Linked DNA regions of Homo sapiens: region 1 is linked to region 2. The links come from fine-mapping of genetic effects on gene expression. Tissue or cell type: testis. Region 2 holds a variant in brackets; the other region holds the start of a gene. All regions are shown on one strand. Distances are from middle to middle.

Region 1 (10,247 bases), 46 kb before region 2:
AGCTGAGCCAAATGGAATCCACCAAGCCCAGCCGCAGCCGGAAGCCCTACTCCTCCCTTACCTTGCCCAGCCTCAAAAATACAGAATCTGGATCCCCCGGACTGACTCCTTCTTCCTTCTCCTCCTCCTCCTCTTTCTCTCTCTCTCTCTATAAATATAAATATATATATGTATAGATATACTACATCCATATATATATATATATATTTTGAGACAGGTTCTGGCTCTGTCACCCAGGCTGGAGTGCAGTGGTGTGATCTCAGCTCACTGAACCACCGCCTCCTAGGCTCAAGCCATCCTCCCACCTCAGCCTCCTGAGTGGCTTGGACTACAGGTGAGTGCCACCACACTGGGCTAATTTTTGTACATTTTGTAGAGATGGGGTTTTTCCCTGTTGCCCAGGCTGGTCTCAAACTCCTGAGCTCAGGCAGTCTTCCTGCCTTGGCCTCCCAAAGCACTGTGATTACAGGCGTGAGCCACCAGAGCCACCATACATATTTTGATTTTAGAGACTACCTCCCTCCCCAACTCCCATCCTCCCAGGTACCTTCTGATTCTTCCCTCAGCCTGATGTCCACTGTCCTCTCTCAGTGCATTGGAGCATCTGAAACCCAATTATGTAGAAAATTCCAGCTTCTTCCCGTGTTGTTTCTGGTTCTCATTTACATTCGAGGATGTGGTTGAACAATCAATTTACTGTTCCTGACAATCAGGGAAGACTGCCTGGAATACACAGAAAGACCTGATCATTGGAGATGAAGCCCAATTTCACTCACTTCGTTCTGTCCAAGCCAGTGTAACCTATTAAGCTAGCACAGTGGCTCTCAAGCTTCATCATTCACTAGAATCACCAGGAAAGCACATTTAAACATGGGTTGTTGGACTTCACCATCAGTGTTTCTGATTCAGTAGGTCGGGACTCGGGGGAGGCGAAAATGTACATTGCTGATGAATTCCTAAGTGATACTGACCCTGCTGGTCCGGGAACCATGCTTGGAGAACTGAAGCCTAGAGTGACTTCACTGTATTAGCCTGGATTGGTTTAGGAGATTAAAATTACTGCTACTCATTATTTAGTTTCTGGTTGTTCAAGGCAGGTCCTGGTGGGAATGTCTTAGTTCAGGCTTCCATAACAAGTACCGTTGACTGGGTGGCTCACAAACAATAGAAACTTCTTCCTCACAGTTCTGGAGGCTGGAAGTCTGAGATCAGGGTGCCAGCATGCCCTTTTATTTTGAAATAAATCAGTATACTTTTCCTAAGAACAAGGACATTCTCTTACATAACCAGTACAATGATCAAAGTCAAGAAACTTAACACTGATAAAATACTATTATCTAAACCACAATCCCTATATACAGAGTTCATCCATTGTCTCAACGATGCCCTTTGTAAGTAATTATTATTCTGGTTCAGGATCTATCATCACTCAGTGCATTTAGTTGTCCTTTTTAGATTTATTTAATCTCAAGTATTTCTTTAGAGTTTTCTTTCCTTGACTGTCAACAGTTATTTTATACAATTTCCTCAGTTTGGTTTGCTCCGATGTTTCCTTATGATTTGAGTCAAGTAATTCATTTTGGGCAGGAATTCCAGAGAATTGCTGTTTTTTTTTGTTTATTGTTTTTTGTTTTTTTTTTTAACAGAGTCTTGCTCTGTTGCCAGGCTGCAGTGCAGTGGCACGATCTCGGCCCACTGCAACCTCCGACTCCCTGGTACAAGCAATTCTCCTGCCTCAGCCTCCAGAGTAGCTGAGATTACAGGCACGTTCCACCACGCCCAGCTAATTTTTGTATTTTTAGTAGAGATGCGGTTTCACCATGTTGGCCAGGATGGTCTCGATCTCCTGACCTTATGATCTGCCCACCTTGGCCTCCCAAAGTGCTGGGATTACAGGCATGAGCCACTGCACCCGGCTTTGCTGTGTTCTCTTCAGTGCATCGTAATACCAGGTAATATATGTCAGTTTGTCCCACTATTGGTGATGTCCTCCCTGACTCAAGTGATCCTTTCACCTCAGCCTCCTGAGTAGCTGGGACAATAGGGGCATGTACCACACCCAGCTAATTAATTTTTTTGTAGAGACCGGATCTTGCCTTGTTGCCTAGGCTGGTCTTGAACTCCTGGGTTCAAGCAATCCTCCTAACTTGGCCTCCCAAAGTGTTGGGATTATAGGTAAGAGCCACCGTGCCCCACCCAAAGATCACGTTTTAAATGGGTGCCCCACCCAAAGATCACATTTTAAATGGCATGAGCACAAGCAATAACATAGGTGACCAAAATCTACCAAAGACTTTCTCATTTCTATAGAGCAAACTCTTTGCCCCTCCCTCCATAAGTCCTTCCAGAGTGTCTTAGTGGCTAGGAGAAAGTTTGAGCTGGGAGAGAGCTTGGATTTCATACGGTTCCCTGTTTTCCAAGTATGGGATGCTTACTACTGGTGAGAAAAAGATGATTTTTTTTTTGCACATTTATATTGGGTTAAATTGTGTCACTTAGTAGCAAAGGCTTTGCCATCTCAACAATCTTTTCAATCTTCTGAACACATCAAGTAGGAAGGCTCAGTTGAGTGCTATTCCGTCTTGTAGCCTGTCTTAACAATCTCAAACAGTTGCTAATTTCCTTCCTTCCCTTCCTCCCTCCCTCCCTCCCTCTTTCTTTCCTTTCTTCCTTCCTTTGTTTACAAAGAAAGGGATGGTTTTGGGTTCAGAGTCTTTGGCAGTATATAGTAATTAGTATATAGTAATATAGTAATATATAGTAGTATATAGTAATTCAATGCCTTTAGGTCAATATATTTTCCATTTTTACTGTGCATACGCATATATACAATGTATTTTAAAAGTTGGCTTTACAATATGTAGTTTTATCATTTGGTTTACAACTAAATATATTGTGAACATTTTCTCTTCTACAACAGTTAAAAGAATTGCATAGCTTGGAGGAAACATAATTTATTAAGCAGTCTTGTTGGGGACATTGAGGTATAATTTTTTTTTTATAAGGAGACTTCATTCTTTTTACAACACCTTTGGGAAAAAAATTGGAGTCCTTGTCTCATATAGCTTTCTATAGATGACGGAAACTTACCCTTCCATTTAGCCTTTTAACTTTCTTCTCTACACCCACCTAATCACCATCAAGTAACCCATTTTATGTTTTCCAACCTCTCTCTCCCATTTGCTTCCTCTTTCCTACCCAGTCTCCCTGCATACATGCAGATGAACTTCCATTCCTTCAGCCCTCTGTTTCCTCCCCTTAAAGAGGCTTTCTTTCCATTTAAAGAGACTATTTTAATTGATTTTTATCAACTCTACTCAAAACTGTATCCTAAGGTCCACATTAGGATTGGTCTTTAATAATCTGAAGATAATATTCAATTGTTTAAAAGAACTTTTAAGAAGACCTTGGTAGAATTACATGTATCAAGAAACATGACTTAGGCACAATGGAGATATGGCTGACTTTCTTTTGAAAAAAGAAGTAGTTTTTGTGGGGAGGGCAGGGCAAAGAGGTAAGAAGTATTTGGTACTACAAGGAAATGTTAGAGACCATTTTGGAAATGTATTCATTATTTTAAGGCAACTAACAAATGATCATCTTTCAGTTAGGACATTATAGCAGCAGCCTTTACTGGTCATGAAATTTGAATGATATCTAAAATCATATTTCTGGAAATAGGTCAATGTCAATTAATAGTAACTTTGTATAGAAAGGCAGATGCCAGCTAGCATATAAAAGTGGTGCATGCAGACGGTGGTAGTTCTGGAGTCCTGGGAGCCATGAGGTGCTCATCCATCACAAGGCCATCACAGCCAGGTAGAAATGCCTGAGGAAAGCAGCGGAGCTGCCCGTGCCAGCATTTACACATGGAACACTTCTTGGGCAGCCGGGTGTCATGGGGCACAGACCCACAATTCTCTTTGCGTACACCGTGCTCACAGTTCCATCCATAGAAGGAGGGGAGGCAGGCACAAAAGGACCCCAGCATGCAGGTTCCCCCATTCAGGCAGCAGGTTCTGTTTGGCTCCTTACTGTCCTGTATCCCCATGGGGGGCACAAGCTGGGAAGACCGAGGACGAATTGCAGGCTCCTCCTGGGGCTGAATGCTGTCATCTCTGAAGGCCAGGTCTCCCTGAGATGGACGCACAAGTTCCCGATGGCTCAGCCTTTAACAAGCAATTCAACGCCTTTAAAAAATTGCCTTTACTTTTACAGTTACTGGCTGTTTACTGAAAATTTCATATAATTTTAAATTTAGAAATAAAAACTTCACAGATGGAATTAAATTTCATATAATTTTCAGTAAACAGCCAGTAACTGTAAAAGTAAAGGTAATTTTTAAGATTACATTTTACTAAGTGAAGTAAAATAAGTGAGTCAATCTAGAGACATTTTAAGAACTTAAAACTTAGGTATGGATCTCTGGAAGAGGTAAGGAGAGATATGGCTCATAGTTGCGCAGATAACACAGGAATGACTCAAGTTTGAGAAATTCCAGTTGAGGCCAAATTCCTTAAAGGAAATTGACAAGCTGGTTGGCTGACTCTGTCTCTCCGCAGGCTTTCTCATGGAAACGTGGCAGGCAAACAACGATGCTGGCAAGAAATTGGACAAGCCGCATGAAGGCCTGGAGAGTTTTAAGCCCAGGTTGAGAGCACAGGTGTAGGCTTTCTGGTGTAGGTTCCGACGCACCTGCCTTCCATTCCCGCCTATCCATTTAGGCTGCGACCTCTGGTAGTTCTCCACTTTCTCTAATTCTGAGTTACTTCATCCTTAAGAAGTGGTGCATAACTCACACCTTGTTAGGATTGTATGAGTATGTGTGCATACACCGTTTAAAGCAATGTAGGGCACAGAGTCAGGAAATGCAAAATATTAAGTTGAGGTCATTTTTCTTTTGGGAGGACAAGGACAGGGCACGGGCTGGGGCCCTAGAGTAGTAATTAGCGATGGGCTTTTCCTCCCAGCCTTCCTTTTGGGAAACGCAGTGTGCTAAAAAAGTGCATGCAGCCCAGGCTGTGGCCTAGGCCGTCGGTTCCCGGCCATGCCTAGCTCCTCTGAGGTCGCCCTTAGTGAGGACACGAGGTGCCCTCACCTCTTTCACTCTAGACACCTCCAGAACACTCGCCCCCCGCGCGCCGGAGCCCCGGGTCGCCACCAACCGCCCGCGGAGCCAGACCTCCCAGCTCTGCGCCCCAGGACCGCGCGGTGCAACCTGCGCATGCGCACCCGCGTCCCGCTGCTGTTTAGCCGTTTCCAAGGCTACGAAGCCCATCGGCCGGGGATAAGAGAGCAAGAAAATGAAGCTCAAGAGCCTCCTGCTCCGGTATTACCCGCCAGGTACGCACCAGCCCGGCCCCGTCATCCCCACGTGGGACCCTGGGCTCCCAGACTGGGAGGGTTTGGGGCGGAGGAGGGCGCAGCCACTGAAAGGCGGCGGGGTCCCCAGGTGGGGCAGGAAGTCGGGCACTTCCCAACCTGTGCCCCTCATTCCTTCAGATGCTGGACTCTTCCTCAAAACATTAACAATTACTCTTTTAGGAATTTAAAGAGTTTAGCTTGACTGTGCATGTCAGTCTGTCTGCATTTATTGAGTGCCTACTGCGTACACGCTTTGTGCTCTCTGCTATGGACCTTTAAAGAAGTTCATAGTGCTTGATTTCAATGAGTGAAGTAATTATGAAATAAATTACTTAACTATTACTTAGTAACATAAGCAATACATTAATTACCTAATCCTTGCCTAACTCTAATTTTAGGTGAGGACATGGTCACCTTTAAAGAATAAGTGACACCCATTGATCACCCAGCTTCTTAGGGACAGAAATAGGAGTGCAATTCTTGGGTTCTAATTCAGAACTCGTCTTCTGAATTAGAAACATCTGCAAAAAAAAAAAAAAAAAGAAAAAAAAGAAAAAAATCTGCAAAACATACCACAAGGCAGAAGATAACCAAATACACTTGCCCAATGAAGTTTGGATAGGAAGTGTCATAAAGATTTCAAAGGAGGGTAAGATACTTTGGACCGGTTTTGTTAAGAATAGCTTTATGAGGGGTGGGACTTGAATTTCAGGTTGAATATCTCACTTTTCCCTGCAACACATCCAACTGCTTGGTCAACATCGCCGATGAGGTATCGCATAGAGATCTCATGATTTCTTTTTTCCAGTCCCATCCCAATCCTGCTGCTTCCTCAAACTGTGCCCTGCCAGTAGAAGGCATCATCACCCAGCCTGTTTTTTGCCAGAAACCTAGGTGGTCACTTTTTGTTTCTCTCCTGTGATCATTCACTGCCTCCCCCACCCCCCCAACCCCCGGCATTCCGTTATCATTCTGCCAGCTCTAAGTCCAAAATATTCTGTGAATCCATCAGATTATCCCTCTTTCCATAGCACAGATTTCTTGGTCTAACATCCCTTCCAGCTGCCAACCTAGTCCAACCCTCCATTCCAGCCACCATTCCCTTTGGCTGAGCCACTCCAGTGGCTTTTCAACTGGATTCCTGGTTTTCACCCTCATCTCCTACAATCCATCTGCCACTAGGAGCCAGTGGGATCTGAATTCAAGATCTCCAATAGCTTCCTATCATGCTTAGAATACGATCCGCAACCTGTGGGATTTGGCTCATTCTGTGCTGCTGACTTCTAAAACTTCACTTGTCTACCCTCACTATACTTCTGACTTCTTTAGCTTGTTCTTCTAAGACTTAAGAGAGGGCCTTTCACTCATTCGTTTTTTGGACCCAGCTTTCCCTAGAGCTAGGAAAAGCTGCTTCCTTTTCTTCATTCAGTTTCAATCAATGTCAACCACCTGAAGAGACTTTCCTACCTATTCAAAGTAGCCTGCACTGATTTTACTCTATGCCATAAAGTGCTTAAAAATTATATTTGTCATCATCCAAAACTCTACTTGTTTTGTTTCAAATGTCTGCCCCTTTCCCATTTAATGTAAACTTCGTGAGAACTAAGATCTTAGTGTGGTTTGATCATTGTAGCACCCTCAGCTTCTAGAAGAGATTTGGTGACACAGAAGATCAGGAATGTTTGTTGAATGAATGTATGGATAAATGGATGTGTTTGATGAGAGGTCAGGTATGGAAATTACTGAAAATAAACACTGAAAATCTTAAGGGATGCTGCTTCTGCCTCCCTGGAAGACCGATCCTGGACAGCTACTTTCTCCAATGGGAAGTTGACATTTGTAGAAAAGACATGCATTTTCTCCTTCATAGAATTCCAGTTAAAATAATATGAGAAAGCTATATATATGACAGTATCTAGATAAATTTATTTTATGTAATTAATTAATTAATTTAATTTTTGAGACAGAGTCTTGCTCTGTCACCCAGGTTGGAGTGCAGTGGTGCAATCCAACTCCACCTCTTGGATTCAAATGATTCTCATCCCTTAGCCTCCCAGGTAGCTGGAATCACAGGTGTGCACTACCAAGCCCAGCTAATTTTTGTATTTTTAGCAGAGACGGGGTTTCACCATGTTGGCCAGGCTGGTCTTGAATTCCTCACCTCAAGTGATCCACCTGTCTTGGACTCCCAAAGTGCTGGGATTACAGATGTGAGCCACTGCATCAGGCTGAGAGTATCTACGAAATTTAAATTAGGCATAGGTAGATAGTATATAGAAAATTTAAAATTAAGACTAATAGTCTGTTTCCTTTAAGTATTCCATAATTTTCTTTTGGCTCTTTTTGCCCATAGGCCTGTGCTGGTTCCCATAGATGTACCAATAAATGAAGCTCTTGCTTTCATCTCTTTGTTGTGGAGTGTAGGTTAAGAATATGAGCTCTGGGTTCAGAATAACGGCTTCTCACCATATACAATAATAAAAAAACTTGGGCAATTTGTTTTATTCTATCAAAGCATGGGTACATGGTGACAACAGCACCACTTCACAGGTCTACTAGACCCTTCCAGCTTCTTATCTTATTTGATTCTTTCTCTTCAGAGTAGAGAAAATTTTTGGAAGAATACTCTCCCCAAGTGCTGTCCTCCCTTCCTATCATGTTTTCACGCGGATTGCCCCACTGAAACTGCCCACTTTAAGATCTCCAATGACATTCACATTGCTAATCTACTGGCCAAGCCACAGTCCTTGCCTGCCTTGACCTGACAGCAGCATTCAACCACTCTGCTTTTCTTTGGCTTCCAGGACACATATTCTATTTTCCTTCCTGTCTCACGTCACTTCTTCTGTGTCTATCTTGTTGGTTCCTCTTCTTCTTTTTGATTATTTAATGTTGGAGTGCCCCAGAGCCCCAACCTTGGATTTCTCCTTTCTATCTACACTCATACACTATGCAATCTCATCCATTCTCAAGGCTTAAAAACTATCCTGAACTGAGGTCAGGAGTTCGAGACCAGCCTGCCCAACATGGTGAAACCCCGTCTCTACTAAAAATACAAAACAATTAGCCAGGTGTGGTGGTGCGGGTCTGTAATCCCAGCTACTCAGGAGGCTGAGGCAGGAGAATCGCTTGAATCTGGGAGGTGGAGGTTGCAGTGAGCCAAGATCACACCAATGCACTCCAGCCTGGGTGCCAGAGCAAGACTCTGTCTCAAAACAAACAAACAAACAAACAAACAGAAAAACAAAAAACAAACCATCCCGCATAGTCCTGAGTACCTGAGTGCCCACCCGACACATTCATTTGAATGTCCACCGTACATCTCATGTGGGGGTCTCCCATGGTCTTCCCCATCTCAGCAAATTGCAGCTCCATTTCTCCACTTACTCATGCCAAACATTTTGGACTCTTCCTTGTCTCTCTCTCATCTCCACATCCACTAACAAATCCTGCTAGTCCTGCCTCCAAAATATATGCAGAATCCAACAATTTCTACTACCTGACCACTACCATTCTTTTTAGCTTGAAAGCTTCCTTCCACCCTTGCCCCTCTTCAGTCTATATGGCAATGGGATGGCTCTGTTAGAACATAAATATGACCATGTCACTCTTCTGCTCCAGCCCTCCAATGACTTCTCAGCTCGTTTAAAGTAAAAGGACCATGATCCCCAAGGCCCTGCAAAATCTCACCCCCTGTTGCTTCCCTGACCTCACCACTTTCGACTTTTCCCTCCAGCAACACTCCTCTCCTTGGTGTTCCTTGAATGGGGCAGAGGTGTCCCCACCCAGGGTCTGCAGTTGGTGTTCTTTCTGCCTCGAATAATCTACCCATGGACATTTGTATCACTAGTGCCCCATATTTTTAAAGTCTTTCCTCAAAATTGTGTAAAGTGAAGACTTAGATATCTCCTTTCTGAGCATTTCTATCTTCTTCCCATGATATTTCACAGCCCCTTTCCCTGGTTTGTCTTTTCTCCTTGGGGCTATCTTAATCCAACTCATCATTGTTTCACTCATTTATTTTGCTTATTCTTTCCCACGAGAATAAAAGATTGACGAAGGCAGGAACTTTGTCTATTTTGTTTGCTCCTTATCTCTAGCACCCAGAGGAGAGCCTGGTGCATAAAATGACATTAATGTTTTTGTTGAATAAGTGAGTTTAATGAGATGATGTGTGTTAAGCAGAATGCCTCAAACTCTTCCTGAAGTGTGAAAGGGCCAGATAAGTGATCTTTGATCTACTTCAGCTCTAAATGCCTAGGATTCTCTCTTTTTTTTTTTTTGAGATGGAGTCTAGCTCTGTCACCCAGGCTGTAGTGCAGTGGCATGATCTTGGCTCACTGCAAGCTCCGCCTCCTGGGTTCATGCCATTCTCCTGCCTCAGCCTCCTGAGTAGCTGGGACTACAGGCGCCCGCCAGTACGCCAGGCTAATTAATTTTTTTGTATTTTTAGTAGAGACGGGGTTTCACCGTGTTAGCCAGGATGGTCTTGATCTCCTGACCTCGTGATCCACCCGCCTTGGCCTCCCAAAGTGCTGGGATGACAGGCGTGAGCCACTGTGCCCGGCCAAGCCTAGGATTCTTAGGCTCACGTAATTCTCTTGACTCATGTTTGCGACTATTGCCTTAATGCTTATCTTATAATGAGGTCATATTACTTAGCATGCTTGACATTTAATTTCTGAATTCCAGTCTTTGGTGAGCCAAATCATATGCAAGTTTCCAAGATACTACTGAATAGCAGGTGGGTGTTTCAATAATAGCATTATCAGATAGGAAAAATTATTCCACTGAATCATTCCCGTGCTACCTTTATCCCTTCTGCATATAGAGCAGTTTTGTTTTGCCTCCTAATCCTCTAATTTTCGCCCTCCCACTTTCTT
Region 2 (10,247 bases):
TCTGCAATGATAAACATGATAATTGTGGATTGTGCTCTCATACGTTTGCATCTGTATGTCTTAGACAACTATGTATGCTACACTATCACTCCAAATTTCCTTGGCAACCATATATGATGCCACATTTTGGGTCCTATCACTGATGGTCATGTTTGATGCCCCATCCTTGACAGCTATATGTTGTACAATATTATCACTGCTTATAGCATCATAAATGTTACAAAGGAGCTTGAACATTTGGCAAGCATGTATATTGCTAAACTATTTCTCTGTCATCTCCTTTACAATCGCAATCATGTATGAGTCTGTACTATATCTGAATCATCTCCTAGATAACAAAGTGACATGCAATTTTAGGATTCATCTTTCAGAACCTCGCATGAGAAGATCATCTTCTTGATGATGATTTGTGACACTATCCTTTGTTTGGGTCTTGATATCACCACATATTGTGTTAAAACATGACTACATAATATCCTTCATATCGACATGTGATGTTATATTATGTGTACTTCATTTCCTTAATAACTATAGATGATATACTAAGTTACCGCCTTTATAACCATGTGTTATATCTCCCTATTTCTGAGTCATCACCTTGATAACCACATGTGACATTATACTGTGTGTTTCATCATGTTGAAAATCACAGATAATGCTTTTCTCCTTGATAACCACATATGATGCCTGATATTTATATGGACCAGCTCCTTTGTGACATTTATGATGCCATAATATAGGTTATTTCCATGAGGAAAACCCACAGTGCTGCATTCATGCATGTCGTCTCCTTGATATTCATGTATAATGCTATCCTATGTGCCATTTTAAAATTCCCATATGTGATGGTACTCTACATGCACATCATCCCACTGATAACCATGTGATACTATACATGTGTCATCTCCTTGGCACTGTGTATGGTTCTAAAATCAATCTTTGTAGAATCCTTGTACACCACATATATCCCTGTACTATGCATATGTCATGCTCTTTATGGCCACTGAGATGCTACAGTGTCTCTGTCATCTCCCTGATCATCATGTATGACATTACAACATGTCTACACCTTCTGCCAGAAGACAGTCATCATATCTATCTATCTGTCTGTCTGTCTGTCTGTCTGTCTGTCTGTCTGTCTATCTATCTTCATCATCATCATCATCATCATCTATCTAATCTATTGAGAGAGAGAGTCATATATCTGTATCTCTCTCTCTCTCTCTCTCTCTTTCTTTACATTAGGTCTATTCATGTTCCTAAAGGCCTTTATAATGCAACAATATTTCTGTGGCATTTCTTTGATAAACACATAGGACCTCACATCACATCTGTGTCTACCTCATTTGTTTGATAACCGTGAGTGATGCTGTACTATGTCTGCACCACCTCCTTGATAAACAAATATGGTGCTATACTGTGTCTTCATCATCTATGATCCTGTACTGAGGATTATCTTATATTTTGGGTCATTTCTCTGACCATAATGTATGATGCTACAATATGTCTGCATCTTAAACTTGATAACCGTGGCTGGTGCTATAATACTATATGCACCATCTCCTTGATAACCACCTATGATGCTATACTATGTATACCAAATCTCCTTTACAACCATTGATGATCTATGTTATTTGTCATAAGTAGTGATCTATGTTACTTGTCATAAATAGTGATTACTACTTATGATTCTACGCTGAGCCATCATATTGATATCCATATGTGATGCCACTCTGTGTCATCTCTTTGGAAACCATGTATGATGCTACACTCTGTGCACCTTATATCCAAGAAGATTACATATGACGTTACACTAGATTATGTCATCCCCCTTATGCCCACATTTGGCATTGTATTGTCTGCCTCATCTCACTGATGATCACTTATGAGGATACATGATGTCTACTTCACTGTCTGCATTAACATGTATTGTGCTACATCTTATCAGGGTCATCACCTTGAAAACCACCTATGATGCTACATGTTTTCATCACCATCTTGAAATTTATGTTGGAATCAATATGATATCTGTCTTAGATAATGTCGTACTAATATATGTCATCCTTTTAATCACATGATATGTTTACATCATTGATAATCATATATAATTCTAGGCTATAGGCCACCATGACAACTACATGTCATGCTATACTATGTCTGTATCATCTTTTAACATACTACATATATTGGTACATTATGACTTTTTCACCTCCTTGAGAGCCATGTATGATACTGCTGTACTATGGCTAAACTCCCTGATGACAGTGATGCTACATAATGTCTGCATCATACCCTTGACAAAAACATATGGTGCCACACTCTGTCTGCATCATAATTTTATTAAGTATGTGTTATGGTATAGTATTACTGCAGCACACTTTGATAAATATATGATGCTCTGCTTTTATTCATGTTGTGTAGTGATGTAAACTATATCTTCATCCTTTACTTGATGATGATATATGATGCTATACTATGATTTTATTATTTCCACAATATTCTCAAATGACAATCTATTATGGGTCATCTTTTTGATGGTAATGTATGGTGTTACTCTATGTATGTGTCATCACTTGTGTGTCATCAACTTAAGTACTATGTATATGCTATTCTATATTTGCCTCTTTTTCTTGATATCCATAAAGTATGCTATTTTATGGGTCAGTTTCCTAATGACCATGTTTGATGCTGGAAGATGTCTGCATTATCTCTTTGAACACCAAGTGGGATTAATACTATAACTATGTCTTTTCTGCAATGACCCTGTGTGATGCTAAACTATTTCTGTGACACCTCCTTGACAATAACCTCTGATAATCATCTCCTTGAGAATGATGTGTGATGCTGTAACATACCCTGTCTGTAGTAAATCCTATGGTACTAGACTCTGTTTTGGTCTTCTTAATAACACTGAATATATGTACTATGTTTCATCTCACTACTCCCATTTATTGTGCTAAAATATAATTGTCTCTGTCAGCCATATGTGATGCTATCTTATGTGTCATATCCTTAATAGCCATATATAATGCTACACTGTATCTACTTCCTCTTCTTGATAACCACATCAATGTTATACTATTGTCTATATCATGTCCTTGAAAATTCCTTATGATATTATGCCGTAGTTCATCTCATTTAGGACAATTTATAATGCTACAATGTTTGTGCCATCACCTTGAAAGTTACATATGATTATACATTATTTCTGCATATTTTCATGATAGCTATTTTATCAGTCACATATTTCTAATAAACATCTGTGGCATTTAAATCTTTGTGATTTCCCTGATAACCATGTATGATGCAACATTATGTCTTCATTGTCTTATTGAGACCCTGTATGACTATTACCCTGAAAATAATGTACTGCTACACTATATCTAATATGTAATCATCTCCTTGACAACCACTTATGGTTATATGCTATGTCTGCATTGTTTTTAACAGCAGTACATTAATTTATACTATGTTTACATCAATTTAAAAATACTTATGCATGATATTATGAGTAATCTCACTGATGACAGTATTTGATGCTGCAAGATATCTGTGTTATCACCTTGACAACTATATATGGTGCCACACTATATGTGCAAAATCTGCTTGAGAAGTACATATGATGCTGTTATGACTGCGTTGTCTCTTTGGTAACTATGTATGATGTTTAAACCAAGGTCATTCTCTTTGATAGTCACGTATTATGAATGTCAATGTGCATGTCATCTACTTGAAAACCAAGTATGATGCTATACTATTTCTCTGTCATCTTCTTGATAACCTTGTAGAGTGCTTTACTATTTTGCATCATCTTCTAGAAAATTACATATGATAACCATGGATATATGTCATATCCGTGATGGCCATGTATACTATATTATTTGGGTATCATCTTCTGTAGTCCACATATGACCTGTGAAGTCTCCATTATTTTCTTGATGATCATATGTGATGCTACACTATGTCTTTTTCATCTACCTGAACTTGACAGTGATCACACATCAGGCTATACTATGTCTGCGTTATCTCCTTTAAATCCTCATATGATGTACAGCATGTCTATGTTAACATTCTGACTCCTGTGTAGATACTACTATACATCTGGATCATCTTATTGATGATCATGTATGATGCTACACTGTGTATGTGTCAGCTCCATAATTCTGACCTATGTCTGTATAATCTCCTTGTCAGCAATGTATGACACTACACTGTATCTGCATCATCTCCTTGATAACCACATTTGACCCTACACTATGTTTATGTTATCTCTCTGACAACATGTGACACTAAGCTATGTCTGTGTCGTCTCCCTCATGACCATGCATGACAGTATCTATCTATCTATCTATCTATCTATCTATCTGTCTGTCTGTCTGTCTGTCTGTCTGTCTGTCTGTCTATCTATGTATCTATCCATCTATCGATCGATCTATCTACTTTTTCTTCTTTATTGGAATTATTCTGAAGGCTGATTTTTTTGTTTCTTTTTTTTTTTTTAGATGGAGTCTTGCTCTTTCGCCCAGGTGGGACTGCAGTGGCACTATCTCAGCTCACTGCAAGCTCCACCTCCTGGGTTCATGCCATTCTCCTGCCTCAGCCTCCCGAGTAGCTGGGGCTACAGGTGCTCACCACCGCACCCGGCTAATTTGTTGTATTTTTAGTAGAGACGGGGTTTC[A/G]CCGTGTTAGCCAGGATGGTCTCGATCTCCTGACCTCGTGATCCTCCCGCCTCGGCCTCCCAAAGTGCTGGGATTACAGGCATGAGCCACTGCGCCCAGCCGATTTTTTTGTTTCTTTAGTTGTATCCCTATCTGTAAAAAAATTACAGTGTTGCAGGCCATATTATTTCTGAGTTTTCTGAAGTTTAGACATATAGTTTTATAAAACTTAGAGTGTAGATCTGTGCAGGACATTCTCTTTCATGTTATTGACTCTGAAACCAAATTGGTCACTTCCCTTTAAGGCTTTTGAAATGTCCAACCGAATTTCAAGTTATATATTTTTTAATCACATTAATTCTAAAATGGCAGGTTTTGTCATTTTTTGTACCTCCTCATGAAGTTGACATTGTCAGAAAGGCAAGTAAAAAATTTATTATGATATTTTACTTTTCTCTGGATGCAAATCAAGTACCTACAATTTTGTATCCTTGCTATATTTTACTACTATGTAATGCTATAATCAGAGATTTAAAAAAGCAGTCTTCATCTGGCAAGGCAAATTGTAAGTTTTCTTCTAACAAAAATTTTACTACTCATGTTTTTCACTTTCAATACTTATTTATTTAACTTATTCATCCTTTACTGATGAGGAAATGTCCATAGTACTTATTCCATCCATTTCTCCATCCATCCATCCATCCGTCCATCCATCCATCCATCCATCCATCCATCATCCATCCATCCATCCATCCATCCATCCATCCATCCATCCATCCATCCATACTACAGCTATTTATTGAATGGCTAATATATGCTTGGCGCTTTTGGCGCTGGAGGCAGAGCAGGAAAAAAGCATTCTATTAGCTTTTTCTGTAGAAAAGGGTTTTTGAAGCCTGTTTTTTGCCTGTTGAGTAGCGGCTGATGCTCCTTCTTGGGATGTTCCTTGTGTACCTTGCAGAAACTCAGACTCACACCTAGTGTATCATGCTGGTCTTGCTGCTTATTTCATCACCTGCCTCTTGAAACTTGCTCTAATTCCTCTTTTTCTCTTAAAGTTTTTTCTTTCTGGATTCCTGCTTCTTGGTCTCTTTTCTACCTTGGAATACATTATTTCTTCTAATAAGCTCAGGGCTAAAGAGGAGCTCCCTCTCACCCTCTCCTGCAATGGGACCAGCAGGCATTTAGAGTATTAAGTATCTGGCTCTCAACACAGGCAAGAAGATGAACTTAGCACAGAGCTCGTGTGTCAGGGGGATATATATTTATACAATGCAAAGTCTTTTATCCAAAGTTCTGTATTTAAGATGAATTTATATATATCCCCACCCCTCTCAAAAAGGAACAGCAAGAATTTTCAGTGCTGCCACAAGAAAATGCATTGCCAAACTGGAAGGTCATGAAGGTGAAATTTCAAAGGTGAGTCGCTTTCTCATTTGGAGGAGTTTATTTACTTTCAAAAAATAAAGAGCAGGGCCCAGGTGCAGTGCCTCACACCTATAATCCCAGCACTTTGAGAGGAAAAGGTGAGAAGATTGCTTGAGGCCAGGAGTTCAAGACCAGCCTGGGCAACATAGGGATACCTCATCTCTACAAAAAACAAAAAAAGTCAGCTGTGCATGGTGTTACCCACCTGTAGTCCCATCTACTGTGGAGGCTGAGGAAGGAGGATTGCTTGAGCCCAGGAGGTCAAGGCTGCAGTGAGATGTGATTGCACCACTGCATTCCAGCCTGGGTGACAGAGCAAGACCCTATCTAGAAAAAAAAAAAAGAAAAAAAAAAAAAAAGCATGCTCAGTATAAATAGGTCTATTGGAATTGAAGTACTAAGATTAAGATTTGTTCTATTGTCTCATGTTTTTTTCTAGAAATCACTTACCTAAAGACTTTATTTTTAACTGTGCCCTCAAACTTAGCATAATAAATTATTTCTAAAACCTCTTAAAAAGTATGGAACAGCATTCGCCTCCACTGTCAGCAAAAGATTTAGTTAGCTGAAGATATTTAATATGGCAATTTAAGGAGCGTGTAAACTGCTTTTCCTGGTTCCGGTAAACACATAAGTTTATGTTGTGCGAAAAATATGCTGGGCAGCAAGTATCAAGTGTTCTGTAAGTTAGATGCAATTGAGGAAGTAGTTCCTGGAAATATGTAAAATTATAATTAAAATTAAATTATAAAATTATCCATTTTGAAACTACAAAGCTGTGTTTTAGGATTTTGTATAAACTTCCCCCAAAGGATCATTCACGGAGCAGGCCCACCCAGTCAGTGATCTGAAGTTTAGATGTGTCATCAGAACTTCGTAGAGTAGGCTAGGATTGGTGGCTCTCACCTCCCAGCTCAGCACAATCCCTTGGTTCCCTGTCTGAGATCAGATTTGTTCCTGCTTTGCAAAATATCAGCTTGATGATTTTAGGTTTCTAAAGGCCCCTTCTAGACCCTGGAACTCCGCCCCAGGCTGTACTCTCGGCCTTTCTGCTTCTGCACCTACAGCTGGTGATCATTGCCCTCTGGCTGGTCAGTGGTGGTCTCCAGGGCATGCAGACTATGGCCTCTTCATAAGCTGGGAGGCTTATGGATGGCAGGAGGGGATGGAAAAGTGGGGTGTGGGAGGCAGGATGAGGAGGAAGCCTGGCCCATGTTTCTGAGTGTCTGGCTAGGTAGCTATTGAGACATCTGTGTGTCTCCTCCATAAGTAAACATCTATTTTCATGAATGAGTGAATACAAAGAATTCTCTAGTGCTATTTTATTACATTTTATGCTTTTTAAATGAACATATTACTTATTGAATTGGCATCTGGTAAGGGCATTTCTATGGGGTGCAAAGCTAAAGTATTCACTCATTCAACAAACACTTTTAGAGAGTGTCCACTGTGCTGGGCATTGCACAGCCACTGGTAACAGAGTGATAAAAACAGATACGGCCCTGCCCTCCTCAAACCTTCAGTCATTGAGGAGATGGCCCGAATCTCTGTCTTCTGGTGATTAGAGGGGGATGTAAGTGTGACACCCAAAGGGATGCAGGACTAACAGGTTCCTTTGATGGTCACTCAGATGCCAGTTGGCAACACCTGGCACACGGGAGGCACAGAAGCGTATTTATGGAAAATGCTATACTTGGGGTGGCAGTAGATGAGAACATCCTTTCTTGTAGGTTCTACATTCACTTATTCTATGGCACAGATTAGAGAAGGATCTGTGTGCTTTTTAAAAAATTTTTATTTATTTATTTTTATTTTTTATTATTTTTTTTGAGATGGAGTCTTGCTCTGTTACCCAGGCTGGAGAGCAGTGGCATGATCTCAGCTCACTGCAACCTCCACCTCCCAGGTTTAAGCGATTCTCCTGCCTCAGCCTCCCCAGTAGCTGGAATTACAGGTGTGTGCCACCATCCATGCCAAGCTAAATTTGTATTTTTAGTAGCGACGGGGTTTCGCCATGTTGGCCAGGCGGTCTTGAACTCCTGACCTCAGGTGATCCACCTGCCTTGGCCTCCCAAAGTGCTGGGATTACGGTCCTGAGCCACCGCCCCTGGCCCGGATCTGTGTGCTTTTGACCACAAAGATGACACCAGGGTTTGGCTACGAAGGATCCTGACTCGTGTGTTCATCCACACCAGGGCCCTGCATCTTTGCACAGAGAAGGGCATCGTGCATCTTTGGAAAGAAGCTGGGTGGGGAATACTCAAATTATAAGGATGCTTTGGTCTTTATTCTTAGAAATGTGAGGAGTAGGCAATTACATTTTCTCTCTGGATTTTAGTTTCCATGTACTAGTCCCTGCAATATTTTTTTCCATTATGAAGAAATTGTTCTATGCAAGAATAAATACCAGACTAGGAAGGTGACATGTGCTGTAATGTCCTTTTTTTTTTTTTTTTTTTTTTTTTTTTGCTGATAAGAAATGTTTTGGGAACCATTACACAAAGCTGTGATCATTTTTCTTTCTCTTTTGCAGATTTCTTTCAACCCTCAAGGGAACCATCTTCTAACTGGCAGCTCTGACAAAACGGCTAGAATCTGGGATGCTCAGACTGGCCAGTGCCTCCAGGTTCTTGAGGGGCACACTGATGAAATCTTTTCATGTGCTTTCAACTATAAAGGCAACATAGTCATTACAGGTATGGAAGACATCAACACCATAGACTCATTTTTTCTTGATTGGCTGTTAGAGTTCCCAAGCTGAATACTAACAGGAGTTCATCCCCATTCCCTACCTCTTTTCTGGAGTCACTAGCTCATCTTGGCCTGCCCTCATATTTTCATTATTTAATTTTAGTTTTATGAGGACCCACAGGAGTGAGCGCTGCCATTGACTGTAGTAAGCCTTTGTGAACTTTGAATTTTATTTGCTCTAGATAAGGTAACAATTTGATAGCCTGCCTTACAGGTTACTAAATTTCCCCAGGTGTTTTCTATCAATTGAATGGTTAATATTTAGTCAGCCAGGCGCATTGGCTCATGCCAACAATCTCAGTGCTTTGAGAGGCTGAGGCAGAAAAAATGCTTGAGGCCAGCCTGGGCAACATAGTGAGACCCCGTCTCTACAAAAAAAATAGAGCATTAGCTGGGCATGGTGGCGTACACCTGTAGTCCCAGCTACTCAGGAGGCTGAGGCTGGAGGAGCACTTGAGCCAAGGAGTTGGAGGCTTCAGTGAGCTATGATCAGGCCACTGCACTCCAGTCTGGGTGACAGAGTAAGACCCTGTCTCAAGAAAAAAGTTGAGTTTATGTCAGTAAGTGTTAGTAACCAAAACAAGTCAGGATCAAAATTCTCCCCAGTTGGCTTTACAGCCCATTAGAGATTTATTCTTTGAGCAGAGTTGTTTTCTCCCCTGCTAAAGCACTAATGTCTGGGGGGAAAGAACATGTATTAACCATTTTTCAACCGTTAACAGTTTATGGTGAATTAATAATATTAGCAACATTTCATAAGAAAAGGGTAGTTTAGATCGTGGAAAGGGGAGAAAAATGACAAGATGATGGTATCATGTTAGTGGAGTGCCTCGAGGGGAGGCCTTGGCAGGGAATGGGTGCCACAATAGTGTGGAGTAGGGCACCCTAAGTGAGCACAGAAGACCAGATCTGCCTAAGTACCAGTGATTCTCATCATGTTGAGCAAATTTAAAAATTACTAGTCTAATAAGTTAAATGCCACAGGCCCAAGGCTGGCTTTACATATTGGCCAATTAGGTGGTTTCCTTGTCAGATAACTTCAGGGGTGCTGAGAATTATCTCCCCTTACCACCTAAAATGCCTCCCCAGTCTACTTAATGATGGACAGTTTCCGAAATCACAGGGCTTACGATCTTCAAAATCTTTGGGCTTATGATTTTCAAGTGTTAACTAAGATGTAGGTACTTTGAAAGCACTGGGAAAACAAGCCATAGATTTTTGTTGTGAACACAATATCAAATCCTTCTCCTTGATGAGAAAAGAGGTGAGGGGCTATGATGGAGGGCACAGGGCGCTCCTGCAGGGAGTGAGAAAGAAGGAAGACCAGCCTTTCCTAGTCCACATGGCCTCATATGAGGCTGGCTCTGCAGTACTTCTTCCCTCAACCAGTTTTCACAGAAGACCCTGGAG

What was found. PIP is the estimated chance that this variant, and not a neighbour inherited with it, causes the effect. A credible set is the group of variants that fine-mapping cannot tell apart.
Region 1: it holds the start of DAW1, and the variant in region 2 is the best candidate, but not a certain one, in a credible set for the expression of DAW1 in testis (GTEx, PIP 0.87).

What each region holds. Positions count from the first base shown.
Region 1 is chr2:227,866,387-227,876,633 of GRCh38, forward strand. DAW1 (dynein assembly factor with WD repeats 1) reads left to right here and starts at 5,245. Exons shown (of 13, transcript NM_178821.3): 1 at 5,245-5,343. The coding sequence starts at 5,304. It also overlaps the pseudogene CRIPTOP2.
Region 2 is chr2:227,912,780-227,923,026 of GRCh38, forward strand. It overlaps DAW1 (dynein assembly factor with WD repeats 1), which reads left to right. Exons shown (of 13, transcript NM_178821.3): 11 at 6,001-6,077; 12 at 8,620-8,782. Among named protein-coding and RNA genes, the nearest start is that of DAW1, 46 kb to the left of the region's middle. The variant A/G (reference allele first, on the strand shown) is at 4,680.